Linked DNA regions of Homo sapiens: regions 1 and 2 are each linked to region 3. The links come from fine-mapping of genetic effects on gene expression. A gene starts in region 3. Each other region holds a variant in brackets. All regions are shown on one strand. Distances are between the middles of the regions. Region 1 has its middle 260 kb from the start of LINC02587. Region 2 overlaps LOC101927558 (a long non-coding RNA gene). Region 3 holds the start of MEOX2 (mesenchyme homeobox 2).

What was found. PIP is the estimated chance that this variant, and not a neighbour inherited with it, causes the effect.
Region 1: its variant is the best candidate, but not a certain one, in a credible set for the expression of MEOX2 in esophagus muscle (GTEx, PIP 0.82).
Region 2: its variant is the best candidate, but not a certain one, in a credible set for the expression of MEOX2 in nucleus accumbens (GTEx, PIP 0.54).

The regions. Positions count from the first base shown.
Region 1 is chr7:15,942,764-15,948,135 of GRCh38, forward strand. No RefSeq gene overlaps it. Among named protein-coding and RNA genes, the nearest start is that of LINC02587, 260 kb to the left of the region's middle. The variant CA/C (reference allele first, on the strand shown) is at 3,215.
Region 2 is chr7:15,710,574-15,715,945 of GRCh38, forward strand. It overlaps LOC101927558 (a long non-coding RNA gene), which reads left to right. Exons shown (of 4, transcript XR_927057.3): 2 at 4,952-5,002. Among named protein-coding and RNA genes, the nearest start is that of LINC02587, 25 kb to the left of the region's middle. The variant G/T (reference allele first, on the strand shown) is at 2,505.
Region 3 is chr7:15,683,555-15,688,926 of GRCh38, forward strand. MEOX2 (mesenchyme homeobox 2) reads right to left here and starts at 3,129. Exons shown (of 3, transcript NM_005924.5): 1 at 2,332-3,129. The coding sequence starts at 2,848. LINC02587 (long intergenic non-protein coding RNA 2587) reads left to right here and starts at 4,824. Exons shown (of 2, transcript NR_110094.1): 1 at 4,824-4,898. RefSeq lists an enhancer at 1,493-2,325.

The DNA of each region.
Region 1 (5,372 bases), 260 kb after region 3:
CTCCACCCCAAATCAACAGAGTATACATTTTTTTCAGCACCGCACCACACCTATTCCAAAATTGACCACATAGTTGGAAGTAAAGCTCTCCTCAGCAAATGTAAAAGAACAGAAATTATAACAAACTATCTCTCAGACCACAGTGCAATCAAACTAGAACTCAGGATTAAGAATCTCACTCAAAACTGCTCAACTATATGGAAACTGAACAACCTGCTCCTGAATGACTACTGGGTACATAACGAAATGAAGGCAGAAATAAAGATGTTCTTTGAAATCAACGAGAACAAAGACACAACATACCAGAATCTCTGGGATGCATTCAAAGCAGTGTGTAGAGGGAAATTTATAGCACTAAATGCCCACAAGAGAAAGCAGGAAAGATCCAAAATTGACACCCTAACATCACAATTAAAAGAACTAGAAAAGCAAGAGCAAACACATTCAAAAGCTAGCAGAAGGCAAGAAATAACTAAAATCAGAGCAGAACTGAAGGAAATAGAGACACAAAAAAACCCTTCAAAAAATTAATGAATCCAGGAGCTGGTTTTTTGAAAGGATCAACAAAATTGATAGACCACTAGCAAGACTAATAAAGAAAAAAAGAGAGAAGACTCTAACAGACGCAATAAAAAATGATAAAGGGGATATCACCACCCATCCCACAGAAATACAAACTATCAGAGAATACTACAAACACCTCTACGCAAATAAACTAGAAAATCTAGAAGAAATGGATAAATTCCTCGACACATACACTCTCCCAAGACTAAAACCAGGAAGAAGTTGAATCTCTGAATAGACCAATAACAGGAGCTGAAATTGTGGCAATAATCAATAGCTTACCAACCAAAAAGAGTCCAGGACCAGATGGATTCACAGCTGAATTCTACCAGAGGTACAAGGAGGAACTGGTACCATTCCTTCTGAAACTATTCCAATCAATAGAAAAAGAGGGAATCCTCCCTAACTCATTTTATGAGGCCAGCATCATTCTGATACCAAAGCCAGGCAGAGACACAACAAAAAAACAGAATTTTAGACCAATATCCTTGATGAACATTGATGCAAAAATCCTCAATAAAATACTGGCAAAATGAATCCAGCAGCACATCAAAAAGCTTGTCCACCATGATCAAGTGGGCTTCATCCCTGGGATGCAAGGCTGGTTCAATATACGCTAATCAATAAATGTAAACCAGCATATAAACAGAGCCAAAGACAAAAACCACATGATTATCTCAATAGATGCAGAAAAAGCCTTTGACAAAATTCAACAACCCTTCATGCTAAAAACTCTCAATAAATTAGGTATTGATGGGACGTATTTCAAAATAATAAGAGCTATCTATGACAAACCCGCAGCCAATATCATACTGAATGGGCAAAAACTGGAAGCATTCCCTTTGAAAACTGGCACAAGACAGGGATGCCCTCTCTCACCACTCCTATTCAACATAGTGTTGGAAGTTCTGGCCAGGGCAATTAGGCAGGAGAAGGAAATAAAGGGTATTCAATTAGGAAAAGAGGAAGTCAAATTGTCCCTGTTTGCAGATGACATGATTGTATATTTAGAAAACCCCATTGTCTCAGCCCAAAATCTCCTTAAGCTGATAAGCAACTTCAGCAAAGTCTCAGGATACAAAATCAATGTACAAAAATCACAAGCATTCTTATACACCAACAACAGACAAACAGAGAGCCAAATCATGAGTGAACTCCCATTCACAATTGCTTCAAAGAGAATAAAATACCTAGGAATCCAACTTACACGGGATGTGAAGGACCTCTTCAAGGAGAACTACAAACCACTGCTCAAGGAAATAAAAGAGGATACAAACAAATGGAAGAACATTCCATGCTCATGGGTAGGAAGAATCAATATTGTGAAAATGGCCATACTGCCCAAGGTAATTTACAGATTCAATGCCATCCCCATCAAGCTACCAATGCCTTTCTTCACAGAATTGGAAAAAACTACTTTAAAGTTCATATGGAACCAAAAAAGAGCCCTCATCGCCAAGTCAATCCTAAGCCAAAAGAACAAAGCTGGAGGCATCACACTACCTGACTTCAAACTATACTACAAGTCTACAGTAACCAAAACAGCACGGTACTGGTACCAAAACAGAGATATAGATCAATGGAACAGAACAGAGCCCTCAGAAATAACGCCACATATCTACAACTATCTGATCTTTGACAAACCTGAGAAAAACAAGCAATGGGGAAAGGATTCCCTATTTAATAAATGGTGCTGGGAAAACTGGCTAGCCATATGTAGAAAGCTGAAACTGGATCCCTTCCTTACACCTTATACAAAAATCAATTCAAGATGGATTAAAGACTTAAACGTTAGACCTAAAACCATAAAAACCCTAGAAGAAAACCTAGGCATTACCATTCAGGACATAGACATGGGCAAGGACTTCATGTCTAAAACACCAAAAGCAATGGCAACAAAAGACAAAATTGACAAATGGGATCTAATTAAACTAAAGAGCTTCTGCACAGCAAAAGAAACTACCATCAGAGTGAAGAGGCAACCTACAAAATGGGAGAAAATTTTTGCAACCTACTTATCTGACAAAGGGCTAATATCCAGAATCTACAATGAACTCAAACAAATTTACAAGAAAAAAACAAACAACCCCATCAAAAAGTGGGCGAAGGACATGAACAGACACTTCTCTAAAGAAGACATTTATGCAGCCAAAACACACATGAAAAAATGCTCATCATCACTGGCCATCAGAGAGATGCAAATCAAAACCACAATGAGATACCATCTCACACCAGTTAGAATGGCAATCATTAAAAAGTCAGGAAACAACAGGTGCTGGAGAGGATGTGGAGAAATAGGAACACTTTTACACTGTTGGTGGGACTGTAAACTAGTTCAACCATGGTGGAAGTCAGTGTGGCGATTCCTCAGGGATATAGAACTGGAAATACCATTTGACCCAGCCATCCCATTACTGGATATATACCCAAAGGACTATAAATCATGCTGCTATAAAGACACATGCACACGTATGTTTATTGCGGCATTATTCACAATAGCAAAGACTTGGAACCAACCCAAATGTCCAACAATGATAGAGTGGATTAAGAAAATGTGGCACATATACACCATGGAATACTATGCAGCCATAAAAAATGATGAGTTCATGTCCTTTGTAGGGACATGGATGAAATTGGAAAACATCATTCT[CA/C]GTAAACTATCGCAAGAACAAAAAACCAAACACCGCATATTCTCACTCATAGGTGGGAATTGAACAATGAGATCACACGGACACAGGAAGGGGAATATCACACTCTGGGGACTGTTGTGGGGTGGGGGGAGGGGGGAGGGATAGCATTGGGAGATATACCTAATGCTAGATGACGAGTTAGTGGGTGCAGTGCACCAGCATGGCACATGTATACATATGTAACTAACCTGCACAATGCGCACATGTACCCTAAAACTTAAAGTTTAATTAAAAAAAATAATAAATAAAAAAAATTAGCTGGATGTGGTGGCATGCGCCTGTAATCCCAGCTACTCAAGAGGCTGAGGCAGGAGAAACGCTTGAACCCGGGAGGCGCGGAGGTTGCAGACAGCCAAGATCGCACCACTGCATTCCAGCCTGGGCAGCAATAGCAAAACTCCGTGAAAGAAGGAAAGAAAGAAAGAGAGAAGAGGGTGGTGGGGAGGGGCGGAGAGAGAGAAAGAGAAAGAAAAAGTTACATTATTAATTAACATGTTTTGAATGGCTTCATCCAGAACATAATAGGAAGACACGTGTACATTTCTCAGAAACAATTGTTTTCTTGAAATCTCAGTCACAGCATACCCTCATTTTTGCCTAAAATCATCAGCTTTTTACTAAATGATTTTAGTTGATGTTTCCATAGAGATCAAAAAGTGACCATGTGAGAATATATACGTGAAGTTCCTTCTAAACTGCATACCATTAAAATGACTCCTATTTCTATGGTTTTTTTTTTTTTTTTTAACTCACACCTCTACTCATCTATCTTATTTTTTATATTATGGTCCTTCAAACTATGACCCAAATGTCCCCTGCTAGTTCTATTTCCTGAGACTTCCAAATATAAAACCCTCTCACTCATTACATAGAATAGGGATCATAGTTTCTTGTCATGAGAAGGTGTGCTATGAGATTCAATATATTGCCACTAGAACAGCATATTTCTAAACCCTGATGATGGTCAGAGATCAAGATGGCATACAATAGTCATGCATATTATAGTAAAACACAAAAGATAACTATCAGAATTTAAATGTATATAAAAATAATGGTTTTGCCTAAAATAGATTTGGATTAAAAAAATAGTAATGACTGATGTCTTTGAACGTACATGAACACACAGTTGTTAGTGGTGTATATGAGAATTATCAAGTCCTCTATCTTTTTAATCTAATATTTCTCCAGTCTATTTTACATGTGCAATTTTAAAATATCTTTATGCTTTAAAATATAATCTTAAAGCAAATCTTATAAATGCAATTCATGAAAACTTACAAAAGTAACGAGGAAATATTTTCACCAAGTTGGAAACTACATTTTATTAATAATTTAAAAAGTTAGCAGTTGGTAATTTTCTCAAAATTAATATTGAATTATTTTACAGTGTTTGAAATTATTTTTCTCTCTTATTTCTGATTTCTCATGTCATCTATATAGAATATGGAATCATGTTTAAAGATTTTAAAACATTTAAAAAACATACATACATTACATAAATATATGTGTAATATGTACACATATGTATATGTGTGTATTCACACACACACACTTTGGAGAATATTTATCTGTGTATTTCCGTTTTACCTTGAGTTTTGATTCAAAACCTATGTTTTTCAATAAGATTATAAGTTTCATGAGATTGAAATCTAATTCAATACTGTACATCTTTAGCATGTATTATCATTCCTTAAGGATAATGCTCATTTTTTTTGTAGCTAGCTTTTTGTAGCTTCTATAAATTGTCATTCCAGATGGCACTCCATTGTTTCAAACTCGATGCCACTCACCTTCTTTTAGGAAAAGATTTGTATTTAATAGGAAGCCTGGGCAGTGTTTTTCTACAAGAAGAGAGGGTGTAGCTTGAGGAACGATATTAGGTTTTGCAATTGAATTGTTCTTCTATGAATTACTCCTAAAAACTGATGTAAGCAAATAACTCTTCCAAGTCTCCAAGAACTGCTTTACCACAGGAAATATCTCAACAATTTGCTGAAAATATTTGCATCTGTTCACCCAGAAAGTGAAAATCAAAAGTGATTATTATCTTTTTCTCCTTAAAGAAACCATCATAGGTGCCCTGTGTCATCCAACACACACCCTAGCTATGGGTGTGTG
Region 2 (5,372 bases), 27 kb after region 3:
GGATATGACTATGTTTTTTTCCTTGGTAGCCTAAGTACCTAAAAGAACGTCTGATATAATGTTGGTGCTCAAAAGTTTGTTGATTGAAAATAAACACTGAGTTTCAAAAGACAGTTTTTTAAAATTCAATTTAACAGTTGTAAGCTAAATGTCTTCTGTGTACTAAACTCTATATAAGCTGTTGGTATACATGGTGGATAATGTACAGTCAGGTTTTAGTACAATTAATTTTCAGTTAGGTGCTAACAAGTTGGCAATTATGATCACAGTGTTAGTAGCATCAGGCCACTACATCTTAAATTACTCTTCCAGAACTGCGACCTTCAATCTAATACAGCAAGTCATTATTTCCTTAAATAATATTCCATTATCTTAAGTAATAGGTTGCATAATTAAAAAAAAATTAGGTCTTACAAGTATGTACTTCTGAGTATGTAAAGTCTAACTACAAATAAGTCCATCCTTTTTCTTTTATCCAAATATTTAATTTTTTTTTGTTTTTACCTAGGTTCCAAACAAAATCTAAAAGGTTTTGCATTGATTTAATATCCAGTGAAAGGCAGGTGTTCACTAAATGGAATGAGAAAAAATAAAAGCAGCCTAACTGCAGAAGTGTCTTTGAACCACAAATTTAAATTTTTAGTGGTTTTACAATCTTTTCAAGCTGTCAACGGAAAAACATGGCTTGACATTGAACACATACCAAGTCAGTAGCATAACTATTTTATAATGTCTGATTGGTCACTGAAAAAAACAGTTTAAAATTCAATCCATGTGATACAAATGCCACTTAGAAAAAGACCATTCATCCTGCAGTGCTGTAGGAAACCTGTGGTATAACAGTTCCCATTTCATCCAGCAGCAGAAGGGGTTTTAAAGAATTACAAATGGAATGGTTCCTAGAATCCTACATGTTGGGTATTATTAATATAAATTTTATCATCACAAAATTCACTATTAGAAGAAAAAAACATAATATTATTTTTTCACTCTCATGCATTAAAAAACTTCATTTTAAATGACGATTTTTAGGTTTATTTATGGGAATCCTTTGGGAATGTCCATTCCTAATTTCATTAGGTCATTCATTCATTAACTGAAATATGTTGAACACTTGCTATATTGTTTCTCATAGTGGAAAGGGTTGGCCTAGTCATCTGTCCAACTGGCATTTATATTAGTCATGAATTTTGTATTCTATTTGGAAAGTCTGTGTGTAGCTATTAATGGTTAGAGATTGCAGAATTACAGATTACCTGAAACAGAACTGGTTGTTTCAAAGCGTTTATAAGCCATATAACAAAACCTAAGTAATCAAAATAAAGCAAATGGTGAATTTTTTTAGATTAGAAACTATTCTGGAAAATTATGAAAAGCGAAGTGGACTTCATCCACATTTGGAAATCAGATTTGTCGCACATATCTCAGTATCAGACAAGTTTTGAGGACTGTAAATTTTGAATTTCTAAACTTCTGCTAACTTCAGCTAAATTTGAATTGTCTAATTTTGAGAAATCCAAACTCAGTGATTTTCTCGTATGCCTATTTGTCGATCTTACTTGTAGACTTTTCATTATTAATTAGCAGTTTCAAAGGGTAGAGACAAGGGGGAAAAAGCATGGACAAGAAAAGACAGCAGGGACAAGAAAAAAAGCATTACACAAATTAACCCATTTATGCCTGAGGTTGCAGTTTCTTGAATTTTTGCAATCAGGCTTTGGCGATGATCTTGAGCAGTAAGATATAAATAACTCCCACATGCTTAGCATTCCAATAATGGAACAATAGGCATAAATTGGACAGAATTTGCCCAATCTTGGTTATCACCTCTAAAAAATGATTTAATAGAAAATAAGTTTGAAATTAGTGTGAAAGCTTCAGATAATATGTGAATTGCAAGATCTGCTTTATTCCTTTCCCCCAATCATTGCTAAAAGTTAAGAATTAGTCCTACATGTAATGGTATGAAATTCATTCATGTTCTCATCTGTAAAGTAAAAGTTAAGCATTATAATTGACTTTAATAGTTATTATGGTGACGACTAATAAAAATTCCTGCAAGTATTGACAAGCCTTCAAGGATATAGCAGTTACGAGTTGCTAGCTAAAAAGTACTTTGAGACCTGGGCAGGAAGGTGCTTTATGGCTACTTTATTTTTTTAATGTAATTTGATTTACTTCATTCCTTAAGAGAAAACATTTTATTAAGGCTTTTCGTTCGTGTGTTTTTTAGTTGTTTTTTTGTTTTTGCAATAGACTTTATCTTTTAGAGCAATTTTAAGTTCCCAACAAATTTGATGAGAAAGTATAGAAAATTCCTGTATTCTCCTTCCCCACACCTCCAGATACAGCCTCCTCCACTACTAAACATCCAGCATGAGAGTGGTACGTTTGTTACACAATAAACCTACATTGATACAGTATTTTCACCAAAGTCTTACTTTACATTTGGATTCACTCTCCGTGTTTTATATTCTAAAGGTTTAGATAAATGTATAATGACA[G/T]GTATCCATCATACAGAATAGTTTCACTGCCCTAGCATACCTCTGTGTTCTGCTTATTCATCCCTTATTTTATCCAAATCCCAGACAATCACTGATCTTTTTACTGGCCCCATAGTTTTGCTTTTTACAGAATGTTATATTGTTGGAATTATGCAGTATGTAGCCTTGAAAAATTGGCTTATTCCACTTAGTAATATGCATTTAAGTTTCCTCCATATCTTTTCATGACTCAATAGCTCATTTCTTTTCAGGGCTAAATAATATTCCATTGTCTGGCTGTACCACAGTTTATTTATCTGTTCATGTACTCAAGGATACTGGTTTGCTTTCAAGCTTTGGCAATTATGAATAAAGCTTCTATAAACATTTGTGGTTTTTAGCGTCTTCAGGTAGATATCAAAGAGTGTGATAGCTGGGTCATATGATAAGAGTAAGTTTAGCTTTGTCAGAAACTGCCAAACTATATTTCAAAGTTTCTGTAGTATTTTGCATTCCCACCAGCAAGGAATGAAAGTTTCTGTTGCTCCATATTCCCTCCATCATTCAATATTGTCAGTGTTTTGGATTTGGGCAATTTTAGTAGGTGTGTCAAAATATCTCATAGTTGTTTTAATTTGTACTTCCCCAGTGTCATGAGATGTAGTACATCTTTTAATATGCTATTTTAATTTGTGTATCTTCTTTGGTGAAGTGTTCAGAACTTTGGCTTATTTATTAAATTAGGTTGTTCATTTTCTTATTGTTGAGTTGTAAGAGTTATTTTTGTATTTTGGATAACAGTCCATCAGTTAAGTCTTGGACAAATGTTTTCTCCCAATCTGTGGTTATCTTTTCCTTCTCTTGACAGTATGTTTCACAGAATAGAAGTTTTTTATTTTAATAGAGCCCTGTTTATCAGTTCTTTCTTTCATAGATCTTGCCTTTGGTGTTGTATTTAAAAAGTTGTGATCATGCCCAAGATCATCTAGAAGTTCTATGTTATTTGCTAGTAGTTTTATAGTTTTGTATTTTAAATGTATGTCAGTGGTCAGTTTTGAGTTAACTTTTGTGAAGGGTATAAGGTCTCATTCTAAATTCTTTTTTTTTTTTTTTTTTTTTTGCATGTGACTGTCCAGACATAGTAAGGTGGAACTTTTTTGTTTTGGGTGTTTTTGTTCATTAGTTTATTTTAGAGAGATGAGGTCTTACTTTGTTGTGCAGGCTGGGCTCCACGGATTCCCAAATAGCTGGACTACAGGCACGAACTCTGGTGCCCAGCTTAGTACTAAAGTTTTAAGCTTTGTTGGTTTGGCCTGTCTTTTTGTGATTAAGAACTTTATAAATTATATTATATTTATTTTAGAAATGTAATGCAAATGCAAATTTAACCTTAGCTGTAACTACTAAGGCCAAATAATCAAGAATTATAGGTACCACAATGTCTATGAAAAGAAAACCCTATATAAAGGCATTTGATAAGCATACAAAACTTTCACAAAAGTCAAAAGAAAACACACTGAAAACATTTCCCTATCACATTTTAAATTATATCTTACAGGAATTTTATTGAATAGTAATTTTACTATTGACTCAGGTAGTATTAGTGATTAATTATTAGACAAATATATACCTAAACCTAAATTTAAAAATGATGTCTCTAAACAGAATGGCATAATTTCCATAATAAAATCCAAGTCATTGCTTTTATGAAATGATGAGAGAAAGGAGGAGAAGGAGGGAAGATAAACATCAAACATGTTCAGCCTCTAATTTTAACAATGTCTGTATCAGTCACTGTATACTCACTAAAAACACTACTGCCAAAATATTCTAAATCTAGGGGCTTACTTTAGAAGGTTACTATGTATCGTTTCAATGTAAAAAATACCCACTTATCTTAAAAGGAAGTGTGATGGGAAGAGCTTTTAAGAGTTATTGTTTGATACTGTGATAGGCAAATAATGTCCTTTTCACTGTGCATTCTTAGGATGGAAAGTCAAGATTTGTGGCATGTGTGTGCATGTGTGCATACATACGCTTTTTTAGGTATGCGTATGATGGGAGGTGAGTAGATAATTTTTCTCCAGGATTTTAAAAGCTGCGTATTTACATCTCTTCCTAAATCAAGCACAACAAGAAGGTGTTAAAAGTGGTGAAATATAATAATTAACGAGGGGAATGGAAATCAAATGACAATAAAATTACATCATACACAGACGAGAGTTAAGTACTTGTGTAGAGGAATTAAACCGATTAAGGTTTTCCTGCATATAGCTCCATACACACATTACTTCCATAACTTTAAATAATATATTTTGTTTTTTTGTCCTGGGTGTATTATTGAAATAAGTACATTCCCTCTTACTCGTTCTTCTCAACCCCAGATCCATTTTCCAATCCCCCACTGATCCCATGTCAGCATGCTCTGTTTTTGACTAGACAAATAATACACAGATTTATTTCTACAGGAAAAACCTCTGGTAAAGTCATGGAGTGCCTACTTGAACGATATTCAAAAGGTAACTGCATGCTTTTGCTGGCCAGAAATAACTCACAGCAAATGAATTCACAGAGCAGTCAATGGAATTCTGTAACCCTCTTAGGGGAGCCATTGTACTATAAGAGAAACTTGAAGCAGTGAAGCAGCCTTTATATCTATATATATCTGTATATAGCTATATACACATAATACAGTGTATGTGTGTGTTCATATACATACACACATACATGCATACATATGTATGTACACACATACATACTGTATTATGTACGATAGAAATTATGGTAAGAATAAGTTAGACTATTGATCTGTGACAAATTTCCACTTGAAGTCATATGGTGTTGGCTTAATATTCCTTTCATTTACATTGTATTATTGTGATAATTTAT
Region 3 (5,372 bases):
GTCTATGAAATAAAATATCTTTGAAGATAATTTATGGAACACCTAATGCAATTGTTACACGAGAAAGATATCTTTAATTTAAATCTATCTCAATATCTGACAAATATACCTTCAGCTGAAATTGGCAAATAAAATTTTATTTTCAATAAGTGTACATAGATTTAAACAGAAACTATTGTGATTTTCCTTTTAGTCAATATTTCTTCAACATATCAAAGGAAAGAAAAGCTCATTCTAAATCCCCAGTATTTTTATCCTTGGTGATGACTAATTGTACTTTCCACTGAAGTTTTAATCTGTTAATAATTTATGTAGCTGACACAAACACTTATATTTGCTTGTTTTTCCAGTACCCTCATTATCAGCTTCAAAATGTAGAAATGAATTTAATTTTGTTAAATGGTTATTTCCCACTAAGTTGGGGGGGAGAGATAAATTAGTTTTGTTAAATTATTCCATTTTTTAAAAAAATTATTAAAATAAATTAAGGGAATCAGTTATTGAATTCCGTTTTCTCAGTTTTCCCCAAACAAAATAACATGTGCTTGTATGAAAATTGTTTGCCCTGAGAAACTTAAGGGCAATGGCTCAGTTCAGGAAGCATGAAGAACAATCTATCATGTAGGTTTCTCATTGCAAGAAATAAAATGAACCGTAAGAGCTTATGGGAATTGCAAGAGTACGCTCATCAACCCGAACTGGGATCTGCTTCCAAAGTTACACTGATATCAAATGTTCAGTTTATGAAATTGTCACTGCATTCTAAAATCGACTGTTTTTCTAATAAAAATTGAAACCTTTTTGCTATGATTAACCTTTCAACTCACTATCTAAAGAGAGTTTCACTTATAGTTAGGAAAATACATTAAATATCAGTGACACTACTGGTAATTTTCTTATAAAAACTAATTTGTGATGGAACATTAAAAGTTCACCCCCTGACCTTGGAAAATAAAAGTTAGCTTTTGAGACCGTGAGAGAAGAATCCATCCTATAGTAACGCTGAAGAACAATTGATATTGCTGTGAATGGTGAAGGAATATTAAATATGCGGCCAATCATTTTCATTTATGTGGCATCTTACCTAAAGCTTTACACACGATCAACATTTTTCCAATCCTTCAAACCAACATATGGGATTACCTTCTAGGACTATTATTAACCCAATTCCACAGAGGAAGAAAAATATGCAAATATTATATTAAACAAATGACACCTTCCAAAAGTATTTAATCCAGGTTGCACTATACCCACGAAAGAAAACTCACAAGTCTCTTAATTTTAAAGTATCTTTTAACAATTTTATAAAAATACAGGTAGGTAAGAGCTTTGAAAACTTGTCTGGAAACTTTGAGTTTCTCTGGATTGCTACAATTTATTCGGCACGTTGTGCCTTCAAGCACCAGAGGTCAGGAAGGTTCCCCTTTTGCATGGCTGCTCAAATTATCCCCACTGAAATCAGCGCCTCCTGCGCGCACCCTTGCATACCCCTTTAGACACGTATCTAACTAACAGTACCCGAGTTGCTGTTGCTTCGCAGTATTTGTCTCTACTAATACCCACTTGGTAGAGGGATTTATTTTCCACTTTTGAAACTTAGGTTCTGTAATTAGCTTACACCACATGGACATGTACTATTAAGGTTCGTCTTTCTTCCAGTGTGAGCATCTATTTATTTACAATTCTCTGACACATTCCTTAAAATCTGAATTCCTAGATAATGTCTTCTTCCCCAATAAAGGGAAAATTTTACCATTTGAAATAGGGTGCTATTTAAAGAACGCTGAAATAAGAATGTTAAAAAAAAAAAACTGAAACTTTTTTTTCTCATGCGCTCTGCCAAGTTCCATTGCAAGTTCCAAACATTGTGCAATAATTTGGAAATCCAGTTAACGATGGGAAAAATCGAGCCACTCAGAGTCGGCAACTTGCAAGAGAAAAGTCAAGAAGCGGCACCCGCACGCACGCCTGCCCAACGGACGCTGCATCCCTGGGCGCACGCCCCTCCCTCCCCAGCGCTGGGATGGAAGGTCACGCTTCACAATCGATTTCACAGCCACTTGTCCTTTTTTATCAACCTTCTGGTAAACTAGTTTAGGACTTTGGAGGGCTTAGAGCTGCTGGCTGTATACGCATTGCTCTCGAATAAACACGTGTCCCCAAATATCAGGACCAAAGCTTCACCGCCGAATTTGGCCGCAGGAAGCCACAGAGGGCAACACATTCCCATCTTCCCTGCTGCCACCCTCCAGTGCGAGAATCTCCCCTAGTATCTCTCCGCCCCTTTTCCAGCCCGGCGCGCACTCTCGAGGGTGCCTGGCGCGCCCTTACCTGAGCTGTCGCTTTTCCTCTTGCCGCCGCTTCGCTTCTCCGCCTCCGCAGGTGACAGTGCCTGGCGGCCGTAGTCCCCCGGCGCGCACGCGGCCCCAGTCGGGGTGCTGGAGCCCAAGCTGGAAGAGTTGGAGCACAGGACGGGCGGGCTGCTCCCCAACTCTGGGGGCCCTCCAGAGTCGGGCTGGAGGCAGAGGCTGTGCCGAGCCGCACTCGGTGGGGAAGACATCTGCGGGAGGTGCCAGTTGGTTTGCAGAGCCTGGTGCTGCTGCTGCTGATGGTGGTGATGGTGGTGGTGGTGGTGGTGGTGGTGGTGCCCCCTGTGATGCTGGCTGGCAAACATGCCCTCTTCGTTGGGGTATCCCGCGATTATGCAAGATGAGGAAGAAGTAGAGAGCTCGGGGTAAGACATATGGTCAGATCTTCCATGGAGGGCGAGAGAGGATTGGGAGAACGGGTGCAAGCCTTGCGCCGTGGCGTGAGGGCTGCGCAGGCAGCCAAAGAGCGGGTGTTCCATAGCATGCAAGTTTCGGGTTCCAGGCAGAAGACTTCACGGCGGTTCCAAAGGCCACCACCCTCTGTCACTTTTTCACTGGAAACCGTGTGATTTTTTTTTTAACCTCCCAAAGCAATAGCGGTGCACTTCTGCAGAGCTCGGATAATCCCGGTCCTGAGCCCCAGCGGCCAGTCTCCTTTACATATGAACAGTCGGACCTGGAAGAGCTTCCCTGAGCTACTCAGATGTCAAGAGTGGGAGAGGTTGAAGCCAAAAGAAGGTGGTCCCAGAGAACTGCTTTCAGGGGGAAATGGCTCTGAGAAGTTATAAATAGAGTGTAACGTGAGCTGGGGGCTGGCTTAGGAGCCCAGAGTTGACCACATGCAAACTCCCTCCAAAACTCCCGCTCAGCCTGCGCCACGCGCTCCCAGTTCCACTTCCTATCTCCTGCTGGACGGACGTAGAGCGTCCACGCCCGCCCAGCACTGCCGGCTGCCAGGACTACAAGCGGCACGCCAACGTCTAAGTCCCGCCCGGGAGGGCAGCAGCTCTGCCCTCCAGACTCTGGAGGCCTGGGCGCGGCGCACACCACCCCCAACCTAGCACCCTGATTCCTACCTACTCACTTTCCTCTCGGGGAAACGTGACTTGTCAGTGTCATTTGGGAACTGTCACCTGCAGAAAAGCTAGGGATACGCCTATCCTTTCAGGAACACGAAAGAAGTAATAGGGTTAAAGGAAAAGACCAGAGCTAGTTTGGCGCACCCTCGAAGTTTTTCAAACTTTGCATCTTCCCGTGCCCCGGGCGCCGCAGCGCGCCTAGGTTTTCGCAGCTGGTTTCTGTCGGTGGGTTGTTAATAGGCTGGGACGCCAGATCTGAGGTTGCGGGGATGAGCACCATGGCCTGGAAAAGGCGGTTCTCAGTGCAGAAAGAAGACGGACCTGGTTGGGTGGGTGGGAGGAAGGCGTGAGTCTGAAAGGGTTGCAGATGCCTGCTCCCTGGCATCCTCACGTGCGATGCCAGGTGGAGGCTCCCTTCCCCCTCTTTCCCGGTCCCGCTCAATTTCCTAGCCACTTGTCCACCAAGAAGAACTTTTCCTGGGTCAAGAATATTTCCAAGCGATTGTGTCCCGGTCATATGAGATGTGTAGATTGCACGCGCATTTCTAGCCTTTCCCCTCAGGAGCTAGCCCAGATCTCCTCGGTTTCCTCCAGAAATCCACTCTCTTCTGCTCAAAAATAAATCCGCTAATGCATTCCTTACCACCAGGGTTCCATTTACTGAGAATTCTTACATTTCGATAGCTCCCAAAATTCACTCACCGTGGGCACTTGGTTACAATTTTGCACCCCTGAAAATAAAATAGAAAACTCGCCTCTAGTAAGCATGCGAGAGCGAGGGCAGGGCTTTGAAGCTGCTACTTGCTTGGCGGGCGACAGGGTCCGCTGGGGGCAGAGTCGTTTACACACAAGTGAGTGGCGCTGTAATGAGCAGGAGGAACAGTCATGTCCCATCTGCGACCTGTCGCATCAGGAGAATATCTGTAGTCACCTATTCTGCCCGGGGCCCCAAATGCGCCACCAGCAGTGTCGCCCCGTTTTTTCATTGTCTCAGGTGTCCAGAGGATGATGACCAGGTCTTTGAAGTTGTTAGTGGGATTAATGGGTACAGCAAACTGGGCTAGACATCTGGTTTGAATTAGGAAAAAGCATTGATTAATCTTTGAGAGGTGTCCCCAAAGCAGAACCTTTCCCCTCCTCTTCCAGTCCCCTTGCTTAAGCCTCACTATCTTCTTTTCTTTTAAGTCACACTGCAGAATAGTGGCTTCGCAATAACATCCGTGTGAAAGATCGAATTGTTTTCTATTGCTCAGAGGTGGGGTGGAGTGGGGGTTGATCAGGAATTCTGAGATTTGTAAGCGCTGCTTTCTTTAACGGAAATTGAGCTCTATTTTGAGGGAAATTAGTTTTGCAGACTTCGTTTAAAAAAAAAAAAAAACTAAATCTTTTGTTCACCAGCTGCTCAGCTTTTCAGTCTGGGTCTGAGCTGAAACCTGCTGCAAGTCTGACGGTAAGACTTTCTTTGCCGATATTTTGGGAATCTAATATTGTTTTAGACTTCGAAAAGGGGTGTTGTTCAGGTTGCACGTTTCTAGGGGCTTTAAGCACTCGCAGGATGGCGTCCAGGACTTAGATCTTGAGAATATCTCTTCCTGCCACTCCCCACGCCCTTGGCTCTTTAAGAATAAAAAGAGGTGGGGGAGTTATAGTCCTCCAATATCGTCGGAATATTTTTTTGTATTTTCATTGTGTTTATGGTTTCAATATGTGCTCTGATATTAAAAGTTAAAGTACAAAGAGCAACACTAAACTTCCCCAACTCATGTAGCTTCTCTATGGATTCTGGGTGAAAGCATTAAAGGCTTTATTTAAAGTGAGATTTAGGCAACCACCTCAATAAACCTAACCAGAAATATTTACATAATATAATGCTGTCAACTAAAAGCATTGTGGAAAATGTCAGACAAGACAGACTAAAATTACT